Homo sapiens: one gene and its partners. The protein of the gene in region 1 purifies or fractionates together with the protein of each later gene. This does not show direct contact. Each region holds a gene or a part of one and is shown in the gene's direction. Other genes may lie near its edges.

What was found.
Region 2: the proteins of ADNP2 (region 1) and GALNT9 purify together in Homo sapiens (affinity purification with mass spectrometry; one large-scale study listed by BioGRID and IntAct). This does not show direct contact.
Region 3: the proteins of ADNP2 (region 1) and GLI4 purify together in Homo sapiens (affinity purification with mass spectrometry; one large-scale study listed by BioGRID and IntAct). This does not show direct contact.
Region 4: the proteins of ADNP2 (region 1) and CHD5 purify together in Homo sapiens (affinity purification with mass spectrometry; one large-scale study listed by BioGRID and IntAct). This does not show direct contact.

Annotation. Positions count from the first base shown.
Region 1 is NC_000018.10:80,129,713-80,133,592, forward strand, and holds part of ADNP2 (activity-dependent neuroprotector homeobox protein 2), read left to right. Parts: intron 1-2,477; exon of another isoform or gene 2,478-2,665; intron 2,666-3,390; coding exon 3,391-3,480; intron 3,481-3,880. UniProt on the Homo sapiens protein: May be involved in transcriptional regulation. May play a role in neuronal function; perhaps involved in protection of brain tissues from oxidative stress. May be involved in erythroid differentiation.
Region 2 is NC_000012.12:132,319,300-132,323,179, reverse strand, and holds part of GALNT9 (polypeptide N-acetylgalactosaminyltransferase 9), read left to right. Parts: intron 1-3,880. UniProt on the Homo sapiens protein: Catalyzes the initial reaction in O-linked oligosaccharide biosynthesis, the transfer of an N-acetyl-D-galactosamine residue to a serine or threonine residue on the protein receptor. Does not glycosylate apomucin or SDC3.
Region 3 is NC_000008.11:143,265,964-143,270,297, forward strand, and holds the start of GLI4 (zinc finger protein GLI4), read left to right. Parts: upstream 1-1,481; 5' UTR 1,482-1,521; intron 1,522-3,396; 5' UTR 3,397-3,433; coding exon 3,434-3,557; intron 3,558-4,334.
Region 4 is NC_000001.11:6,173,488-6,177,367, reverse strand, and holds part of CHD5 (chromodomain-helicase-DNA-binding protein 5), read left to right. Parts: intron 1-3,880. UniProt on the Homo sapiens protein: ATP-dependent chromatin-remodeling factor that binds DNA through histones and regulates gene transcription. May specifically recognize and bind trimethylated 'Lys-27' (H3K27me3) and non-methylated 'Lys-4' of histone H3.

The DNA of each region.
Region 1 (3,880 bases):
TATTTTGTTGCTTCAATACAATAGATGGCAGTCTGGTCTTTGTGTGCATTATGTTCTTTCTGTGGACTGGAATGCAATGCATTTAACACCTGTTGATGATCCTGGTCCTAGATGGTAGTTTTATTTGGGGGCTTGCTGTGAATGAGGTGTTTCTGATTCTGTCACATGTAGATTGTTAGCAGACATTCTTCTGTAAACTCTTGTTTTACTCAGCAGTTGGGACTGTTTGGTTTCTCTGAAATATAGTGCCTCTGGGAAAGGCAGGATAGTTTTATCCTTTCCTTTGAGCTGTGACTTTTCAAAGTGAGTAGTTAGTTAACCTTTCCCAATGGTGATTCGTGAAATGCCTTTTTTTCTGACTTTCTTGAGCACTTCTGTGGATCTCCTGTGACTTCGTGTGTTTGGGTCTCTACGGCCATTTGTCTTTCTGATGCTCAAATGTTACAACATCCAGGTGCTCCTGGTGCTTTTGTCATGACCCCTCCCCTAAAGGGCCTGTGAGGATGGGCCCATTCTTTGAGCATTTGTCTCATTTGTCTTTGAGCATTTGTACTTATACTTTTCTGTAGGTTCTGAAGTTGGCTTCGTGAGCTAATTCTGAATGCACTGTTACCTCACAGGACTGTCCATATCACGCGATTATGGACTTGATACGTCTTTATGCTCACTTCTTAATACAGTCTGCACTTTTAAATAAGTGAGCTATGCTGCACAGGTAAAGAAAGTGTTTTGTATGACTACACTTTCTACACGCTTTGTGAAGTAGCTGAGAGCAAAACAGGAGTAGATTTTTACTTCTTTCAACTCAGAGAAAAAGAAGAAAAGTAATCTTGGGCCACATGGACTTTACAATTTTAGAAATGGAAAATGTTTTTCTTGTACACCTTCTCAGTGTCTGATTTTCACTTTTTGATACAGTTTTATTTAAAACCCTCTGCCGCCCTGCACTTCATCAGGATTCTGCCCCAGGCCTTGTTGTTTCTCTCTCTCCTGTTCCCTCCCTGTCATGTTAGCCACCCCAGCCCCCGCCCCCCCGCCCACGTCAGGTCAGGCAGACACAGTTGGAGCTCTCTGCGTTATACTCCTTTACCACTTCACAGTCATTATTCATAGCACCTACCACCCATGAAAGACAGTAGTTTCTTGTGAAAAACAATTTTACAAAATATCTGTGTTTCTCAGTTGTGAAACTGTGAGGTTGGGATCCCATCTGTCTTATCCATGGTTGGGTTCCCAGAGTCCAAAAGGAAATATTTGAGGGTTGGATTAGTGATGACTGCGAAAGGATGAGGTAGATTACTGTTCTGTGGAGCTTGTAATTGTTTTGTCTTAGGCCATTTTACCTGCACGTAAGGTGGAGGCCTTCCTTCTACGTTTCCTCCCTTCCCTACCTGCTGCCAGCAGGCTTTGGAAGTCAGCCGTTGAACCCCTGCTCTGAGGATGCTGCTGCTGTGGGAGGTCTCGGCTCATGCATTTCTGGCCTCTGGACCCCTTTCTGGGACCTGCGTGCTCCTCTTCTCTCCATGTTCACCTGCCCCTGAGAGTTACCAATACGCAGTGTGTTTCTCACACTACTGCCTCTTTCAGCTGATTGTGAGGTTTTCCTGACACCCTTGTCTACACTATAGGTCTTTTGCATAATTTTCTCACTCTAGCAAGTGTAACTTTTTGAGTGAAAAATGATTGATTCCATCTGAGAAAAAAATCCTCTATACGTTCTAGATCTTTGTTTAACTGCTTTGAAAGGTATTTAAAGAGTAAGAAAAAAATACACTTTTCTTTCATTCCCTAAGACGAATGGATTGAACAATAGCGGTAAGGTATAGTTTAAAAAGACGGTGTTCAAGATGAAGATTCTTTTTTTTTTTTTTTTTAATTATACTTTAAGTTCTAGGGTACATGTGCACAACGTGCAGGTTTGTTGCATATGTATACATGTACCAATACTATGCAGCCATAAAAAAGGATGAGTTCATGTCCTTTGCAGGGACATGGATGAAGCTGGAAACCATCATTCTGAGCAAACTGTTGCAAGGACAGAAAACCAAACACTGCATGTTCTTACTCACAGATGGGAATTGAACAGTGAGAACACTTGGACACAGGGCAGGGAACATCACACACTCGGGCCTGTCATGGGGTGGGGGGCAGGGGGAGGGATAGCATTAGGAGAAATACCTAATGTAAATGACGAGTTATAAATCATGCTACTATGAAGATACATGCACATGTATGTTTATTGCAGCACTATTCACAATAGCAAAGACTTGGAACCAACCCAGATGAAGATTGTTTTACTTTGAAGTACTTTTTTGTTTCTTTATATGTACTCATGAAGCTACATGGGTTTTAGAATCCTTACGTTTAGGCTTTGCGTACATATAGAGGATGTAGATAGTTATTTGTTGGGAGGTCTCCTCTGTTTATTTCTTATGAATCTGTAATTTTGACTTGGATTATTTCAACCTTTTCCTCAGATTTCATACTTAAAGGGTACTCCATCAAAACTTGCTGAGAGCTTTATAGTCTGTCCTCTGTATCCAGGGGTTCTGCATCTGTTGATTAAACCAACTGTCTGTTGAAAATATTTGGGAGAGAAAATGCATGGTTGCATCTGTACTGAACATGTACAGACTTGTTTTCTTGTCACTGTTCTCTAAACAAGGTAAGTAGGAAGATGTGCATAGGTTACATGCAAGTAACTGCACGATTTAACATAAGAGACTTGAGCAGTCTTGGATTTGGTGCCTCCAGGTGGTTCTGGAACCAGTCCCCTATGGATACCGAGGGATGACTATACTTTCATTTCTCTTTTCCCCTGTAGATTTCTTAGGTACCAAGTAATGTCATCAGGTTCATTCTTTTTCCTTCCTTCCTTCCTCTCTTTTCTCTTTCTCTTTCTCTTTCTTTTTTCTCTTTCTCTCTTTTTTTCTCTCTCTCACTCTCTCCTCTCTCCCCTCTTCCTCCCCTCTCTCCTCTCCCCTCCCCTCTCCCCTCTCCCTCTTTCTGTCTCTCTCTCTCTCTTTCTTCTTTTCTTTTTCGATGGTGTCCTGCTCTGTCTCCCAGGCTTGAGTGCAGCTCACTGCAACCTCCACCTCCCGGGTTCAAGCAATTCTCCTGCCTCAGCCTCCCGAGTAGCTTGGAGTACAGGCATGTGCCACCATGCCCAGCTAATTTTTGTATTTTTTGGTAGAGATGGAGTTTCGCCATGTTGGCCAGGCTGGTCTCGACCTCCTGGCCTCAAGTGATCCACCCTCCTCAACCTCCCAAAGTGCTGGGATTACAAGCATGAACCACTATGCCCGGCCTTATAATCTCATCAGGTTCTAATTAAATATTTCTTTATCTTCTGAATTTACATAATCTCTTTTTTTTCTCCCTTTTTAAAAGGACCTTAAAGGCTTTGATCCAGGAGAGAAATACTTTCATAACACATCATGGGGTGATGTTTCTCTCTGGGAACCTTCTGGAAAGAAAGTGGTATGTATTTTTTGCATTTGTTTTTCATGTTTCCTCAAAAGTGAGCAGTGACTGTAAATGTGGTCTAAAGAACATCACATGTATTGGGGTTGCTGGTGAGTGAATGGGGAGGAGGAATAATGCAACCTTTCAGAGAAGTAGCAAGAAACCAAGTATAGTGTGTGGTCAGGCAGGGTTACTGATGCTCTGTTCTGTGTGCAGAGTTGATACAGTGATGCAGTGAAACTGTTGTTTGTCCTTGATTATAAGATATCATTGCTGTAAGAAGGACGTTTGATTTAATAATTGTTCTGAGTAAAACAAAATGCCACTACATTAAGTGCATACAGTGAATGTACATCCTGGTTTCAGAAACTGAAATAAAAATGTAGACCTCTGAATCAAGGAACATTTTAAGTAA
Region 2 (3,880 bases), on another chromosome or scaffold:
TGGAAACTTGACAAAAATAAGTCTGTAAATTTCCATGTCAGATCTCCCACTGAGGACAAACGGGCAGGATGGGATCCATGTCTTGAGACCCGTGTGGTCAGCAGCCCATTTTCTCTTGAGCAAGCACAGATGCCTGTGAAGGGACAAGGAGGTGGAGAAGCCGGGAGGCGCTGGAGGAGGGGGCAAGGCTGACGCACGGCTCTCGAGCCCGAGGAAGTGCCCCTGTGGCCTGGGCTTTCCCGTACGGGACGGCCAGGAGAGCGATGGCCGCCCCGCCACTCAGCAAGCGGACTGGTGTCAGCCTAAGTCTGACAGTCCCCCCTCTAGCTGCCATTCACAGGAAGGAGAAACTCATTTTCCAGTCGTTTAAAAGGTGCCAAGGGTTGTATCATCTCGTAGCACGGAAGCAGCTCGGCCCTGGGCTCTGCGCCCGGTCCCCTGGGCTCACCAGGCCCTCCCAGGAAGCCGCCCAGGCCTGCTCCCACCTCCATCCTCGCAGAGCCTGCAAACCCCCCTCCCATGCCTGGGGACGCCATGGTGCTTCCTACGTTCTGGAAGTAGGAGGGGGCAAACTGTGAAGGGGTGACAGGAGCTGGGGTTGGGCAGACGCCCCCATTCCCTGTGCAAACACTCACCCCTCCCGGAGCCTTCTGTGGGGCAACTGAGTCACGGACGGGGATGCTGGGTGCTTGCTGTGCTCGAACTGGCATTTGCGGGCCCAGCCCCTATGAGCTGAGGGCCTGTCTCAGTGAGCAACGGCACCACCTCATGTGCCGCATGTCCGTTCCTTCCTGGCGAATTCGTGAGCACCTGCTGCATTCCTGAACTGCGCTGAGGACGCGGGCCTGAGCAGAGATGTCCCCACCTCAGGGGCTGACATCCCAGGGAGGAAGACGGGGAGTGAGTAAGTTGCATGGTCCAGATGGTCTCAGACAAACCTACGAGGAGGCCTGAGTGACGTGGACGAATGGGTATCTGGGTGGCGGGGATGGTTACGGGTTGAACGGGGCCCGCCCGGAAGCTCACGTCCACCTGGAACCTCGGAATGTGGCTTATTTAGAAACAGGGTCTTTGCAGAAGTAATTAGATAAGATGCCCTCAGCCAGGACTGGGGATTAGTGGGCCCTAAATCCAATGACTGTGGCCCTTCTAAGACGAGGAGAGACAGTGGGGGTTTGGAGGGGAGGACGCCCCTTGGGGGCCGAGGCGGGGGCTGGGGTGGTGCAGGGGGCCGAGGCGGGGGCTGGGGAGAGGCAGGATGTGTCTTACCCACTGCCTTCAGAGGGAGTGTGGCCCTGCGCGCCTGACATCCAACTCCCGGCCTCCTGTATGAGGGGACAGGTGTGTGAGGGGACAGGTGTGTGGGCTCCTGTGTGAGGGGACAGGTGTGTGAGGGGACAGGTGTGTGGGGTGGAGCCTCCCCACTCGGTGCCACTGCAGTGACCTGGGACACACACAGGTGGGTGGGGAGGGAGCCACTCTCTGAATTGTGAATGAGGAGAAGGAGCTGCCAGGAGAGAATCCGGGGGAAGTGCTGGGTGTCGGTGGCAGGTGCAGAGGCCACAGTGGGCCCTGGGGTTGGGGTGGTCAGGGCGAAGTGAGTGAGGGAGATGGTGAGGTGCTAGGGCAGGGGGCTGCCAGGACAGCCTGTTGGCCCCGGAAGGGTGCTGGCTGCACTCCCAGGCTCCGGACCATGCCAGAAGGTTCTTGACGAGGGATGTGACACTGTGGGTGCCTGTTTTGTGGGGGCACTGAGGTCCCATCTCTGGTGGTGCCCGTCTCACTAGCTGCTTGAAGCACATTTTCAGTTTCACTCGGATCTGCCAGGACCCAGATGAGACGGGCGACTCATTAGCAGACGGGAAACCAAGGTCTCCGGAGCAGCTGGTGTACCATGGCCTTGATTCTGGACCCACAGGGGCCTCGACTCCGGACCGACAGGGGCCTCGACTCCAGACCCACAGGGGCCTCGACTCTGGACCAACAGGGGCCTCGACTCCGGACCCACAGGCACCCTCAGTCAGGGCTGACACAGGTGGGGCAGTTCTTCCTGGCGGGGCCGCCCCCTGGGTGGGTTGTGGATGTTGAGCAGCGTTTGGCTCCACCCACTGCCAGGCACCCTCCTCCCCGCTGGGACGCCAGGAGGCCCCTGGAGCGAGAGTCCACCCTGGGCACCTGCCTCACTGACTGTGGCGTCGACCGCCTGGGTTCAAACCCAGCTCCTCCCTCCTCAGCTGCACGACTGTGGGCCGGTCACACGACCCCTGCACCTTGGTTTCCCTATCTGTAAAGGGGGGATGCCCGGAGCAACAGCCTCGGGGGGCCCTGTGGGCACTGAAGGAGGCACGCGGCACAGCAGAAGGACCCCCCCGCTGGCGCCGCCCACCTCCCCTCGCCTCTGAGATGAGGGTGGGCTGATGATTCTCCAACCCCGAGGGCACCTGGTGGGGGCGGAGGCCTTGAGCTGGCCCAGGGACATGGAGTTGGAGAGAATCAGATCATGCCGAGGGAGCTTCCCTCCACCTCCTCCACCGTGTCCCACGGATCCAGGCACACGGGCTTTGCTAACAGACACACCTGGCCATACTCTCAATGCAGCATCCCATTTCCATTCTGTTTACTGATATTTACTAGTAAAACGATACATGTTTTCTATTGTTGGTGCCAATCCATCACTTATTTAAGAAACGAATTAATTTAACTTAAAAGATGAGTCGATTTAAAAGAAACTGTTAAGTAATATGAACTCAAGCTTCTGTAGAGACGACAGATTCCCCAGGAATCCAGAAAGATCCGAGGTGGGGGCGTCTGTGCCTCGTGGCCCTCGAGGGCTCTGGGCCGTGTCTGCCGCACCCGCGTCCTCGAGGCGGAATCGGAACCCGGGAAGTGAGGTCCCGGCTCTGCACGCAGCACCCTCCCCGGGCGTTCTGTGCCTCTCAGTGTGAGTTTAAACAACAACAAATAAAAATAAAACAAGCGCGTGTGTGGATGTGCTGTGGGGAGGCTCCTGGGCTTGGCGGCCGGCCCTGGCACATTGTACCCACACGGACTTGGGGATGTCGCTGCAGGAGCAGCTTGAGGCTCGCCAGCCCTGTTAGCAGCTGAGATCTTTGATTTTCAGCTACAGAAAACTCAAGTCTGACAGAGTGAACGCTAACGGGACCCAGTGGCCCAGTGGTTCTGGCAGAGGGGATAGCGTGACCCAGCGGTGGGGGCCGCTGGCCGCCCCCTTTTCCTTAGGAGCGCCTGCCTCGTGTGCCCGCCTGCATGGCGGGGTCAGTGAGTGCCTCCGAACCTCCGGAGGCTGAGGGTGGAGAAGACACAGGTTCTACAGGAAATCCGGCTTCTCCCTAGAAGGACGCGGGAGGCTGGGCACCCAGGCCCGAGGAATGTCTTCTGTCTACGTGGGGCTGCGGGAGGAGCACCCGAGGCGACCTGAGGTGACCTGTGGCCGCGTGTTGTGCCGGGTACAGCTGTGTGTGTGGCGGAGTGGGGTGTTGACCTGCCCCAGACGGAAAGGCCTGTTGAAAAGCAAACTCAGCTAGTGTGTGCGTCAGGGCTCTCCCGAGGAAAGGAGCCGGCGGATAGAGAGAGACCCAAGAGGAGATGTAGGGTGAGGATTGGCTCCCGTGACTGTGCAGACCAAGAGGCCCCATCATCTGCCGTCTGCAAGCTGCAGGCCCGGGAAGCTGGGTGGGGTCCTTTGGCCTGAGTGCAGAGACCTAAGAGCCAGGGTCACGCTGAGGAAAACGGCATAACTTCTACTCCAAAGGCCCGAGACCTGGCAGCTCCACCCGATGTCCACAGGCAGGAGCAGAGGGAGGTCTCAGCTCACACAGGACATGAAGCTGCCCTCCTCTGCCTTTCTGTTCCAGCCGGG
Region 3 (4,334 bases), on another chromosome or scaffold:
GACAGAGTCTCATTCTGTTGCCCAGGCTGGAGTGAAGTGGCGCGATCTCGGCGCAATGCAACCTCCGCCTCCCGGTTCAAGTGATTCTCCTGCCTCAGCCTCCCAAGTAGCTGGGATTACAGGTGCCCGCCACCGTGTCCGGGTAGCTTTTTTATATTTTTAGTAGAGATGGGGTTTCTCCCTGTTGGTCAGGCTGGTCTCAAACTCCCCACCTCTGGTGATCCACCCACTTCAGTGTCCCAAAGTGCTGGGATTACAGGCGTGAGCCACTGCGCCCGGCGCTACTTATAACTTTTTAAGAAACTACCAAGCCAATTTCTAGAATGGCAGCACCACTTTGCCTTACCACTGGCGATGTCCCAAGCTGCTCCGCGACCTCAGTGATGCTTGGCACTTGTTAGCAGTTTTTACCTGAGCCACCTGGCAAGTGTGCAGTGGCACCCACCGCGATGCTGGCCGGCCCTTCCCTGACAGCCATCCCTTCCCGAGCCTATTGCCATCCCTGTGCCCTCTTCGGTCAAACGTCTGTTGCGGCTCTTGCCAATTTTCTAACTGGAATGTTTGTTTTCTTGCGGTAGAGTTTAGAGATTTTTACATATTATCAGCCTGGGGGCTCCTCCACCCACACAGCCCTGAGCGTCCACCCTGGCAGCTGTTGCCCGTCTGCAGGCCCCCCCGCCCTCTGCTCCGCGTGCCCCTCCAGCTCAGGGGTCCCCTCGCCTCGGCTCTCTGCACCCCTGCTCAAAACGGTCAAAGAACCCTCCCCGGCCGTTTATTTTTCCCAGAAAGTGACAATTTTCTCTTTTCAGGTCGTAAGCACAGAACTGAGGGAGAAACTGTGGCTGAACAAGAGGAAAATGAGGAAGGAGTCCATGAAGGGGCTTTGGGGAACCTGTAACATCCTCCTCAGGCTCCCGGGGACGCCCCTGGAAAGCAGGCAGAATCGAGGGCGCTGGGGCCCCCGCGAGGGGAGCGGGAGGTCGCGCGTCTCGCAGCGGTTCCCGGCCGCCGGTGACCATCGCTGCGGACACATCCCGAGGAGGGAACCCAAGAGGGCGGCGGGGGGGACTCGCGAGCTGAACGTGGAAGCAACTCCAGCCGAGGACCCCCGGAGGCCTGGAGTGCACGGAGGGGCCGCGGGCAGCGTGGGGACGGCGCCGTCATCTCCCGAAGCCCGGCCCCGCGCTGGCTCCCCGGGCGGTGCAGGGCCGGCGTCGGGAAGGAGGCTCCGAGGCGCCGGCTTCTGCGCCCCACGCAGCGCCGCTCCCCGCGCCCGGGCGCTTTGCAGGCGCGGGCGGGATCCGGGCCAGCGTGTACGCGAAAGCCACGCGCGGGCGCAGCCCACGAGGGGAGGGGCGGGGAAAGGCCTCCTCTTCGCTCCCGGCCCCGCCCCCACACGGCCACCGAGGCGTGCGGTCCTCCCGGGGCCCAGAGCGTCCCGGAAGTGCGCGCCGGCCGGGCGGAGTGGGGCGGGGCCGGACACTTCCGTCCGGCGCGCGGCGTCCTCCTCCCGCTCGGAAGGTGAGTGGGCGCGGGCGGCGGCGGCGGCTCCGGGTGCCTGGGACCAGCCCAGTCCGAGCTCGTGCGCCGTACTCCGCGGTGCAGCCCTGCCCAGCCGGGCCGTGCGGCCCTTGCAGCCGCCGCTCGCCGTGACCTTGGCCTTGGGCCAAGCCCGGGGAGCGGGGTGGGCTCCTGGGGGTCGCGGAGCAGCAGCGGACCGCCCCGCCCAGCGGCCCTGGCGATAGCGGGTGTCCGTTCGCAGGGCGCCTTTCCCAGGCACCCAGTGACGGCAGCTGTCGTCATCGCCACTCTGCAGATGGGAAACTGAGGCCCGGAGGTCCCGCCGCTCCGGAGCGAGGAGCCGCCGGACCCCAGCGCCGCACCGCCGGGCGGACGCGCTCTGTGCCGAGCTCCCGGCGATTGGGTCCGCTCCCACGGGGCTGGGAACAGAGGGGCAGAGGATGCTTCCCCCGAGCCGCTGGCAGGAGTGCCCTTCCCCCTTCAGTCTGGAGCTCAGAGTTTGTGCGTCCCTGGGGGTGAAGGGGCGTCCACGCTGTGATGGTCGCCTCTGCTCAGTCCTGGGGGCCAAGCCAGGGTCGGGGTGATCGAGCAGGCCCTTTTACCAGGTGTCCCCAGTAAGTTAACTAAGTAACTTGAGATGTGACTTCAGGGTGGAGGACCTGCACCCAGTGGCCACCTACCTGGTGACCTGACCCTTCCCATCATTAGGGGATGGAGGCTGGCCCAGAAGCCGGGCACTGGGGTGGCGGCCGTGTGGGAGCTGCCTCTCCCACTTCCTCGAAGCAGGCACTGTCTGCTGTTCTTAGATCTGAGTATCCGTTAACTTTTGTCCTCTTTTCCCGTTCCTTTCTTCACTCCCTGCCCCAGATTAGGAGTTCCTACTCTATCACAGTATGAAAGAAAAGTCACTTTTCACATTGGACTCAAGCCGTTTTTGCAAAGTAAACTAAGAAGTGTCTTGGAGCCCTGAGTGAGTCTCCCAGTGCTGCTGCAGGGCTGGACTAGGGGATTCCAGCCTGCAGTCTCTGAGGGCTCTGTAGGGTCTGAGGAAGAGAGTTGCCCTCTGGAAACGTCTCTTCTCTGCTGTTCGGGAAAAACCTTATTAAGATTTCCTCCAAAACACTCATGCGCAGCAGGCATGGTTCGGTTTTCAGCCCTCCCACAGGGCCAGCAGCTGAGGTTTTTCTGGAAGACTCCCTATGCCTTTCTCTGGGGGAGGGGTGATGCCACGGGCTGGAAGGAGATGCCAGAGCCTCTGCTGGGACAGGAGCTTCGCTTCAGCCCCCACAGGCGTCTGCTGTGCCGCCCAGGCGGTGGCTGCTTCCTAAGCGCGCCTTCCAAGGCGTTACTCCTTTGCTGCTGCTGCTGCTGCTGCTGTTGTTTGAGTCTTGCTGTGTCTCCCAGGCTGGAGTGCAGGGGCGCCATCTCGGCTCACTGCAACCTCCACCTCCTGATTTCAAGCTGTTCTCCTGCCTCAGCTTCCCAAGTAGCTGGGATTACAGGTGCCCGCCACTGCGCCCAGCTAATTTTTATATTTTTAGTAGAGATGGGGTTTCACCATATTAGACAGGCTGGTCTCAAACTCCTGACCTCATGATCTACCCACCTCGGCCTCACAAAGTGCTGGGATTACAGGCATGAGCCACCGTCCCCAGCCACTCAAAGCGTTATTCCTTACTGAATAAATGTGCCAGGTCCCCCAACTGCCTCACCCCAGGCCTATGTGTCTCTGTGGGTTCATCCTCCATCCTTGCTCCTCCTGGAGTGGATAAACCTCCATCTCCCCTTGGAGAGCTGGCATGTTGCCTCCTCCTGCACCATCCCCCCGACATTCCTCCCAATCCCCTCATCTGCCATGGTTTTCATTTTCCCCAGGTCCCAGGTGTGACACCTTCAGCAGGTCTCAGGGAAGATGGCAGCCCTAGGGGACATTCAGGAGTCCCCTTCTGTCCCGTCCCCTGTCAGTCTCTCATCACCGGGGACACCTGGAACCCAGCACCACGAGCCTCAGCTTCACCTCCATGGGCATCAACATGGTACTCACCCAGCCCGCTGTGCGCCCTCCACCCTGCATCCCCTGCCCTCACGTCCCCTGCCCTGTCTCCTCCTGACCTGCCACGCTGGCTGACTTGAGAGGCGCCTCCAGACACCTGTATGCAGCTCCTTCAGCAGCTGGGGTTCCCACACCCTCAGGCCAGGGGCTCGGCGCGGGTTGGGTTGGGGCAGCGGTGGTTGAGGCTGGGGCCAAGCCTGAGCTCTCGCTCCCTAGGGACAGCTCCCCGCATTGTTTCTTTCCTGAGTTGAGGTATAGGAGGGAAAGTGGCCTCAAAATCTGGATCCAGCGTGACCAGGAGCAAGGCATCGCCCCTCTGAGTGTGTGTTGTCATTCAGGAAGTGGAGCAGCCAGAGTCCTTGCCAAGCTGGTTTGGGTGTGATCCCCCGGGACTCGCAGGGACAGAGCGCCAGCCTTGCTCCACCCCTGATGTTGTGGCCTCATGGTCACATGGCAGGCTCTGGGAGTTGAGGTGTGGGGGAGTCCCAGCCCCATAGTGCCCCTGGCTCTACTCCCTCTCAGAGGTCAGGGATCCTGAGGCTACATCTCTGCTGGGTGTTCCACAGGAGGCCTGGCCTCGGCCCTCGTGGCCCAACCCAGCACATGAGCTGCTGACAGCAGGGGCAAGGCCCCATATAGGTCAAGCCTGGAGAGCCCGTGCCTGGCCCAGGAATGGGGGCAACCTGGCACAGGGTTCTCCCTCTTGGGGAGTCAGAGTCCTGGTGGCTGAAGGGACCACTGAGGCTTGTGGAGAGCAGCT
Region 4 (3,880 bases), on another chromosome or scaffold:
AGGTCACCCCAGCTTCTGGCTGTGAAGACAGCCCTAGCCAGGCCTCCTGTCAAGTCGCACTGCTGGCCCCCCACTCACCCTGAGCTCTTCCTCATAGCCCCTATGCAGCCCTGAGTCCAAGCTCAGTGGCGGTGACCCCCAAAGACCAGAACCAGCTGGTTCCAAAAGATGGAAGTTTGTGGCTGGAGGAGCTAGTGTTTTGGAAGCTGTCATGATGATTTTTCAGTCTACGGCTATTAAACTCATGACTTGTCCGATCTTTTTTCTTTGACTCTGCTCATCTCCCACCTCCCCCTGGGAGTTGCTCACTCTCAGCAGTGAATTATTGTTTCCCGTGCAGTGATGGTGGGGAGGGGGAGGTTTGCCCTGGCCAGCTCTGGCATTGAGGCAGGTGTCTGAGCCAGCTTCTAGGAGGAAGGCAGGGCGGGTGCCTCTTCTGGTTGGGGGACCAGCAGTTGCCAGATTCTCCTGGGAGTTGGGGTGGCTGGTTGAAGCCAGGGGTCAAGAGCTGGTGGGATGAGGCCTTGGCTTCTAGCTCTGAGCATTAGCTGAGTGGTCTTGGACAAGCCAGGCAGCCCTCTCCTCGGTGTGCCCACTTGTAGTATGGGGACATAGCACTGGCTACCTCATAGAGGGTTATTATGAGGAACAGTGAGACAGTGCATGTGGAACATTAGGCCACAGTGCCCAGCACATGATAGGTGCTCAATAAACTGTGGCTGGTGTAGTTAGCACCAGCCAAGGAGGGCAGCTGTCCTGCCTTCTCCAAGGAAATGCTTCTGATACTTGCATCCTTAGCCAGTAAGCTCAGGGGAGTAGGAGCCTGGGTGGGAGGAGGGCTGTGAAGCCCAAGGTAGGGGTGGCAGGAAGCAGGAGAGGGCTTCAGAAAATGTGGCTCTCAGCCCTCTTAGGGCCACTGCTGGGCTGGCAAATTCCCTGCCTCATTGGCCCAGCTTTTCCTCAATCACAGACAAAGCTAGTGAGCCCAGAATGGGCAATGTCTGGACTAGGCACCGTTACCTCTCTGGCCCCAGTGACAATTGGCCCTAGATGTGTAAGTATCTTAGGCTTGCTTCCTCAGGTCCAGGGGCCAGGAGAGAGTGACAGTCATGATTCCCAAAAGGCCATGACATTTTAGCCTGCACCCCTACCCCTGTGGAAGCATGGTTTGGTAGGGGGGTCCCAGGGAGCCTGATTGTATTTAACATTCTTTTCTGGGAGGAGGGAGACAAAATGACCAGCACACTTTGCCCAGTGGCTTGGCCAGTGGGTTATTCATTGTCATTCCAAGTTGATCAGGTAATAGGATCCATCTATCATTTTATCAGTTCATTCAGTCGCTCACCCATCATCCATCCATCCATCTACCTACCCACCCACATCTACCCATCCACCTACAAAACCAACCAAGTAACCGTTCACCATCCGCCTATCAATCCATATCCATACCATATCCATCCATCCATCTGTTCTTCCTATCCACTATTCATCCATGCACTATTCGTCCATGCTTCCCACCATCCATCCATCCATCCATGCATCCATGTATCCATGTATCTACCTGCTCTCCCACATCTACCCGTCGACCCACAAAACCAACCAAGTAACCATTCACCATCCACCTATCTATCCATATGTATATCCATCCGTCCGTCCGTCCATCCATCCATCCATCCATCCATCCATTTGTTCTTGTTCTTCTTATCCACTATTCATCCATGCACTATCTGTCCATGCTTCCCACCATTCATTCATCCATCCTCCAATCCATCCATCCACCATTCATTCATCTGTCCATCCACCATCCACCCATCCACCATCCATCCATCTGCCCATCCACCATCCATCCATCTGCCCATCCACCATTCATGCTTCCATCCATTCATCCACCACCCACCATCCATCCATTCCTGTACCCACCATTCATCCATCTATCCACCCGTCATCCATCCATTCATCTATCCACCATCCATCCATGCATCCATCCACCATCCATCCATGCATCCATCCACCATCCACTCATCCATTCATCCACCATCCATTCATCCATCCACCATCCATTCATTCATCCATCCACCATCCATCCATGCATCCATCCATCCATCCACCCACCATCCATCCATCAATCCACAATCCAACCACGCATCCAACCACCATCCACTCATCCATTCATCCACCACTCATTCATCCACCCACCATCCGCCCACCATCCATCCATCTGCCATCCATCCATCCACCTATTGTCCATCTATTCATCAATCCACCATCCATCCATGCATCCATCCACCATCCACTCATCCATTCATCCACCATTCATCCACCCACCATCCATCCATCATCCATCCATTATCCATTCAGCCATCCATCTGCCATCCATCCATCCATCCATCCATCCTTCATCCACCATCCATCCATCCACCCACCCACCATCCATCCTTCATCCACCATCCATCCATCCACCCACCCACCATCTATCCATCCATCTATCCATTCATCTTTCATCCATCCATCCGTCATTCATCCATTCATCCATTTATCCATCCGTCCATCCTCCATCTTCCATCCACCATTCATCCATCCACCCACCATCTATCCATCAATTCATCATCCATCCATCAATTCACCATCTATCCACTTATTCACCATCCATCCACCATCCATTCATCCATCCACCCATCCACCATCCATCCTTCCACCCACCGTCTATCCATCAATTCATCATCCATCCATCTATTCACCATCTATCCACCATCCATTCGTCCATCCACCCATCCACCATCCATCCACTATCCACCCATCCACCATCCGTCCAGTGTCCATCCATCTGCCATCCATCCATCCATCCATCCATCCACCCACCATCCATCCATCTATCCATCCATCTACCCACCATCTATCCATCAATTCATCATCCATCAATCTATTCACCATCCATCCACCATGCATTCATCCATCCACCTATCCACCATCCATCCATTCACTATACAATTATCCGTCCACCCATCAGAGACTTCTGGAATATCTTCTCTGAGCTGGGTACTGAACACAATGTGTGTTGTCTAACTTTCTGGGCTTTTGCTTATCTCTGTGGCTCTGTCCTTATTTCACTCTCCTTCCCTGTCTCTCTCTCTCCCTCTGTCCCCATATCTGTCAGTTTTCGTCTCCCCTGAGGTCATGCCCCTGCCTCTCCCTTTCTGTCTGGCCGTTTTTCTCTCTTTTGTCCCTCCCTGTCCCCCCAGGTTGACTTCCCCTCTCACCATTCTGTCCTCCTCCTCCCCACCCATGCCCTGGGCCTCTCCCTGCTTTCCCTGCACCCCCAGGGTGACTCCCCCCAGGCCCCAGTCACTTGGGGTAAATGCCTCATCTATCCCCGTCTCTTCCCTCCACTCCCCACTCAGGACTGATGCTTTCTTTTGATGTGACACCAATGAGGTGATGTCTGGGTTTTGTTAAATGTCATAAATAAATTATGAATCCTCTCTTGGGCGGTGTACTGCCCCCCTTTGCCAGCATAAGCCCTGTCTCATGGGGGGAGGTTCGAGGACTAACGGCAGCCTGAGAACTCCTTGGCCAGCGTCTAGGGTGGCCCTGAGAACCTCTGGCCCAGCAGTGGCCAAACTAGAGACCGCTGCCCTCTGCCCTTCACCACTGCCGCCCTGACCCTCCTGGGTCTCGCTGGGCTCTGCCTGCCATTGCTGAGCCCCTGCAGGCATCGTGTGGGTCCTTTGCATTCACAGTTTTTACTTCTCCCCATAGCCCTGGGGGAAAGGCTGCCACATTAGGCCCATTTCACAGATGAAGAGAGAGGCTCAGTGGGGAGGGGACTTGCTGGTATCACCTCCAGGAGGGGTAGCTTGAAGCCTCTGCTGCCCCTGTTGCT